Linked DNA regions of Homo sapiens. The protein of the gene in region 1 purifies or fractionates together with the protein of each later gene. This does not show direct contact. Each region holds a gene or a part of one and is shown in the gene's direction. Other genes may lie near its edges.

What was found. The genes of interacting proteins can lie anywhere in the genome.
Region 2: the proteins of AASDHPPT (region 1) and EHD4 fractionate together in Homo sapiens (co-fractionation; one large-scale study listed by BioGRID). This does not show direct contact.

The regions. Positions count from the first base shown.
Region 1 is NC_000011.10:106,080,662-106,084,161, forward strand, and holds part of AASDHPPT (L-aminoadipate-semialdehyde dehydrogenase-phosphopantetheinyl transferase), read left to right. Parts: intron 1-3,500. UniProt on the Homo sapiens protein: Catalyzes the post-translational modification of target proteins by phosphopantetheine.
Region 2 is NC_000015.10:41,962,558-41,966,057, reverse strand, and holds part of EHD4 (EH domain-containing protein 4), read left to right. Parts: exon of another isoform or gene 1-70; intron 71-3,500. UniProt on the Homo sapiens protein: ATP- and membrane-binding protein that probably controls membrane reorganization/tubulation upon ATP hydrolysis. Plays a role in early endosomal transport.

The DNA.
Region 1 (3,500 bases):
TACTGCTATTTTTAAAGAAAATAAGTAACAGGCTAAGAAGAAAGCTATTAATAAAAGAACCCACATCTTCCTAATTTCATAGTAAAACTATCTAATCTCCATACTGCCTGCACCATATGTGGTTTGAATATGTGGCTCTCTCAGTCTGTAAGGCTTGTATTAATTTTATCTCTCACTCCCATTTCTGCATAGAGAACTCCTATTTACTTGTTAGATTTCACCTTAACCTTACTTTAGGGAAGCTTTGTGAGCCTTCAATCTAAGCTAGGTTCTTTTGTTGTAGGTTCTCATAAAATATATTTTCCTTATTCCAGTAATGTATCTCAGTTGATTATTCATCAGGATGATTGATTATCTTTTCCTGATACTTAAAAGCTGTGTGAGAGCAAGAACCATGTTAGCCACATCAGAGTTTGATCACTATCACATCTCTTAGTACCTTGCCTAGCATGTAATAGTAAAATATTTGTCAAATGAATGAATAAACACTGTGCTGTTAGAGTATAGGCTTCAGTGTGGTTGTGAATCTCTTCTCCCTTTTGCTTTTATTGTCCTTACCTTGCATTTTCCTACTAGCTACTCTTTCTCTTACCTGCTAATAAACCTTTCCAGTACAACTCTATTCTCAGGTTTGTTCAGAACAAGGCCCTACTAGTGATTTTGGAAACCTTATAACAGATTGTTGATCTGATTCCCTGGATAAGATTCCAGGAATTTTGTTTACCTCCTGAAACTGTATGCTACATTTTGTATGATATGCACATGTGCATTTTTCTTGGGAAAGGATCTGGTATTCAACAGGGACATAGGTGGCTTACTCTAAAAAAATTGCTGCTATAGAGGATTCTTAGCATGGGAATTAGCCCATATATTCTTGTAGCTTTCTGCTGTCATTACAGGAACTTTTTCTAAAATCAGAAATGGAAAGGCCATTGTTTTTTAGAATGCAGTCAGCACAACTACCTGGTAATAATTGGCCCAGTGGGTTGGTATCTGCTTGGAAATGATACTTCTGAGAAACAGATTTTGTTACCAGTTAACTTGATGGGCAGTGTTGGCTATGGTCAATGCTAGATAAACAAGTAATTAATAACTGAAGCTTTTAATAAATGATGGTGTTCTCACTCATAGATGGGAATTGAACAATGAGAACACATGGACACAGGAAGGGGAACATCACACTCTGGGGACTGTTGTGGGTGGGGGAAGGGGGGAGGGATAGCATTAGGAGATACACCTAATGCTAAATGATGAGTTAATGGGTGCAGCACACCAGCATGGCACATGTATACATATGTAACTAACCTGCACATTGTGCACATGTACCCTAGAACTTAAAGTATAATAATAATAATAATAAAAAAGAAAAATAAATGATGGAAAGACAATTGAGCAAAAATTTAAGATTTAGTTTTCCTGTTAATTGTGTTATTAGACCTCCCCCCACCAGTTTTTTTTAGTTGATCTTACTTGACTAATCACAATGTCTAGGCCTTTTCCTTTTCTTTATTTTGTTGTGAAAAAGCTGTTGCTATGTCCAGTAACACAGAAAGGAAGAGAGATTTTCCAATTGTCACTAGTGTTGTTACCATGCTACTGATTCCTGAAGCATCAATGGACACAGCATGATTTCTTAATGAAGATGGGAAGTAGACACTGATTTGCTTCATTGGAGATTCTTTGAATTGCTCTACTTATTGTAGTAAGTGAGGAGATTGAGCAAGGGATTTTTCCTAAGAGTCTTGCTAAATGATGCTAGGCAAAACTTAGGAGAGCAGCAAGGAAAGTACTCTGTTTTGTACTAGGCATTGTTACTAGATTGCCAACTCTAAAGACAGAGTTGGCTTTTGGGGGTTATCATTAGTGCATTGAAAGAGTCAATTCCATTACTCTGTCTTGTCCTATAGGTAAGAATCCACTAGGAACTCAGAGAGTCTTTTTCTTTCATGGTGCATTAACCATTTCTGCTGAGTGCAGCTCATTTCCCTCCCTCTACCTGTTCTCCCAACTGTTGCTGTGGACGTGCAGGAGAGAACATACCTAGTATATAGCCTACCATATGCCAGGACGGTACATTCTTACTCTTAGGAAGAATGGTGTTTTCCTGGTCTTCATCTTAATTTATTACCCTCTTTTGGAAAATTTTGGTTGGTTTTCCCTTTGTTTTCTAATTTTTTCTACCATTAAAAGTGTTTGAAGTGATAAGCATAAAGGGTAACTTTTGAATTGTTTAGTTTTGTGACCATATTTACAAAGTAAGGCAAAATAAAATAGACAAAATACATAAAAATTATGATTGAAATTTGGGAAAGGACCAGAATTTTCCCCCTATGGTTTTACATGTTCGTCTTTACATTTTTAAAATAAACTTTGCTGGACTTTTTTTTTTAAATGCACTTGGGATTTAAAACCTGTAAGTAGTTTTAGAAACTCACACATCACTTTGTACTCTGAATTCCTTACTGGAAAACCAAGTCTCCACCCTCAAGGAGTTTTCCTCCTTCCCAGTTACAGGTCGGTCTTTTTCCTTTGTCAGTAGGATTTGATTGTGTAACTAGTATTTATTGAGCAATTCCTACAAGTGTGTGACACTATATTAGATGCCTAATAGGTATTATTTCATCTTTGTAAGACTAGTGCGTAAGTACTACTGTTATTTTATATAAAAGGTTAAGACATTTGTCCAAGTTGACTTAGCTAAAAAGTAAAACTTCATATATTTAACCACTGCTCTCTACAGTATATGGCCTCTCAGTATGAGATTTTATTGATTCCTATTAAAAGAATTTGCAGATACCAAAATATGAAAAATTCTGTGAAACTGGGTTACATACATTTAAAGTTGTTATGGAAGAACTAATGACTAGGAATATGAAAAATATAGTAAGGGTCTTGCCTTACCAGTTTCAAAAACTTGTGTTAGTCATTGTAAACTAAAAAGAGTATGGTACTAGCGAAAGAATAGACAACTGGAAGAGTTAATCTTAGAGCCCAGGATATATACATATTTCAATTCAGTGGATAAAAGATTATTTATTAAATGGTGCTGGTAGAATTGGTTAGTCATGTGGATGTAACACATACTATATACACCAATTTGGAGGAATTAGAAATTTAAAAATAAAAAAGTTTAAAATTTTAGGACAAAATATAGTTGACTATGATGTCGAGTTGCAGTAAATCTTTTTATGAATTCTTTTCAAACGAGACAGAGTTCAGAATTTATCAAAGAATGGATATTTAAATTTAAAAAAATTATATTCCAAAAATATAACCAAATACAAAAGATAAATAATAGAATAAGGAAAATTCTTATAACAAATTTGGTAAGGTGTCAATATCCATAATATATAAAGAGCTTCTATGAAGTGATTAGAAAATATTAATAGGCACGTTACAGAAGAACAAATTCAAGCAGTCAGTAAGCTATTACCTTAATGATTAGAGTAATGCAAATTAAAGTAACAGTGAGGTGCCCATCAGATTTGCAGAAAATTGGA
Region 2 (3,500 bases), on another chromosome or scaffold:
CATCTCAGAAGACAAAGAGGAGGCAAGACTTGGAGCAAAAGTCCTGAAGAGCAGGGCAAGGAGCTGCAGGGTAGGCGGGGCTGGGTGGGGTGGTGGGGGTAGGCAGGAGGTGAGTAGGTGGGGCGGGGGGTGGGCAGGGGAGCGCTGGCAGCTGCAGTCCGAGCAGGGAAGCGCTGCAGGCCAGCAGCTGGGCCAGTTGTCACATCATCCACCTGACAAGCAGCAACAGAGTATTTGGAGAAATGTAGGAGGGGGAAGGCTTTTTCCATCCTGACATTATCTTCCCTAACTCACATTCAGAAGCTGACTTACAAAAGGTGTTCAATGTCCTTTTCAAAACCTCGAACCAGAAGGCCGTGGTTCCTTCTGCACGTGGCTGTGCATCAGAATCACTTGGAGGCCTTTTGACACGGATTCCAGGGCCCCACCTCAGACCTCCTGAGTCGAAATCTCTGTGGGTCAGGCTCCAAAATCTGTTTTTGTTTTTCTAAACCATCTCTCACAGTAATTCTTATGTGCCCTCCCCTAGGAAACATTTGGGAACCATTGCCAGATGAAGGTTCAGTTAATGGAGGAATGGAAGAGGGCTAGCCTCAACCCAGAAAAGGGAGGCTGACTTTGCTGAACCTTCCATCCGTTCCAAACCCCATCTGTTCACATTTCTCTCAGTGACTTAGATGAAGACATAGAATTCATGCTTACAAAACTGAGGATTGTGTAAATATAATTTAATAAATGGGGTTCTTTTTTGCTTAATATGATACGATGAGCATTTTCTTATGTCATTATATAGTCTTCAAAAATAACTTCAATGACTACATCATAATCTATAGTACAGGTTGGACATTTAGGTTGTTTCTGTTTTTATGCTGTTATACATAATGTTGCAATGAACTGAACATTTTTGGCCATAAATCTTTGTATTTCTAGTTTTTTTCTTAGAATAGCCTAAGCATAAATTAGTGCCTCAAAAAATATAGATAATAGGCTGGGCGCAGCAGCTCACACCTGTAATCCCAGCACTTTGGGAGGCCAAGGTGGACAAATCACTTGACTCCAGGAGTTCAAGATCAGCCTGGGCAACATGGTGAGCCCCATCTCTAAAAAAAAATACAAAAATTAGCCGGACATGGTGGTGCATGCCTGTAGTCCCAGTTACCTGGGAGGCTGAGGTGGGAGGATCACTTGAGCCCAGGTGGTCGAGGCTGCAGTAAGCTGAGATTGCACCACTGAACTCCAGTCTGGGCAACTGAGTGAGGCCTTGTCTCAAAATATATATATATATTTTTTTTTTTTTTCAGGCTTATATATATTCCTAAATCTATGTATCTATCTTTCTTTTTTAGGACAGTTATTCCAAATTAGACTCCCACCAGAAATATGAGGATCAGTAATTCACCAAACTGCCAGTAAAACTAATTAAAATTAATTTGATAGGAAAAAAAAGTGTTTTAGATAGGGTCTTGCTCTGTTGCCCAGGCTGGAGTACAGTGATGCCATCATAGCTCACTGCAGCCTCAAACTCCTGGGCTCAAGCAATCCTCCCACCTCAGCCTCTGGAGTAGCTGGGACTACAGGTACATTGCACCACCACACCCAGCCAATTTATTCATTTTTTGTAGAGTTGGGATCTCGCTGTGCTGTCTAGGCTGGTCTCAAACTCCTGAGCTCAAGCGATCCTCACGCCTTGGCCTCCCAAAGTCCAAAGTGCTGGGATTATAGGCGTGAGCCATGGGGCACTCAGCCAGAACAGACTTATTTTAATTTGTTTATTTCTTACTAGTGACGTTGAACTTATAAAATATAGTTGTCTTCCATATTACTTTGTGAATTGTCTGAATTGTCTGTGAACTTTGTCCAATTTTCATTTGAAGTGTTGGTCTTGTCCTTTTTTTTTTTTTTTTTTTTTTTTTGAGATGGAGTCTCACTCTGTCACCCAGGCTGGAGTGCAGTGGCGCGATCTCAGCTCACTGCAAGCTCTGCCTCCCAGGTTCACGCCATTCTCCTGCCTCAGCCTCTGGAGTAGCTGGGACTACAGGCGCCCACCACCACTCCCGGCTAATTTTTTGCATTTTTAGAAGAGACGGGGTTTCACTGTATTAGCCAGGATGGTCTCGATCTCCTGACTTCATGATCCACCTGCCTCGGCCTCCCAAAATGCTGGGATTATAGGCATGAGCCACCGAGCCTGGCCCTGGTCTTGTTCTTATAAATAAATGTAAATGTTTTTCTCAGTAACAGATATCAATCCTTTGTCACAGTTGTAAAAGTGTTTTTCCAGTTTGAAATTTGCCTTGTAATTTTTGTAATAGTTTTTCCATGCAGATATATTTAATATTTGTGATCAAATCTAACAATTTTTCCTTTTTTATAATATCTTTTATTTTTTGGTTAGAAAATCCTTGTTTATCTTAAGACTCAGGAAATGTTCACTCATATTCTTTTTTTTTTTTTTTTTGAAACAGACTCTCACTCTGTCCACCCACACTGGAGTGCAGTAGCACGTTCTCGGCTCACTGCAACCTCCACCTTCCAGTTCAAGCGGTTCTTGTGCCTCAACCTCCCAAGTAGCTGGGATTACAGGCATGGGCCACCATGCCTGGCTAATTTTTGTATTTTTTAGTAGAGACAAGGTTTTGCCATGTTAACCAGGCTGGTCTCGAACACCTGACCTCAAGTGATCTGCCTGTCTCGGCCTCCCAAAGGGCTGGGATTACAGGCGTGAGCCACCGTGCCCTGCCTCTTTTTTTTTTTTTTTTTTAGTATTTATTGATCATTCTTGGGTGTTTCTCCGAGGGGGGGATTTGGCAGGGTCATAGGACAATAGTGGAGGGAAGGTCAGCAGATAAACATGTGAACAAGGGTCTCTGGTTTTCCTAGGCAGAGGACCCTGCGGCCTTCCGCAGTGTTTGTGTCCCTGGGTACTTGAGATTAGGGAGTGGTGATGACTCTTAAGGAGTATGCTGCCTTCAGGCATCTGTTTAACAAAGCACATCTTGCACTGCCCTTAATCCATTTAACCCTGAGTGGACACAGCACATGTTTCAGAGAGCACGGGGTTGGGGGTAAAGTCATAGATTAACAGCATCCCAAGGCAGAAGAATTTTTCTTAGTACAGAACAAAATGCAGTCTCCTATGTCTACTTCTTTCTACACAGACACAGTAACAATCTGATCTCTCTTTCTTTTCCCCACATTTCCCCCTTTTCTATTCGACAAAACCGCCATCCTCATCATGGCCCGTTCTCAATGAGCTGTTGGGTACACCTCCCAGACAGGGTGGCGGCCGGGCAGAGGGGCTCCTCACTTCCCAGACAGGGTGGCTGGGCAGAGGCGCCCCCCACCTCCCAGACGGGGCGGCGGCCGGGTGGGGGCTGCCCCCCGCCTCCCTCCCGGACGGGGCGGCTGGCCGGGCGCTCTTTTTAAAATAGGATTACTTTTTAAATATTTAACTTTTTAACCCACCTGGAAGTAAAATCTGTCTCAATTATATTGTTGTG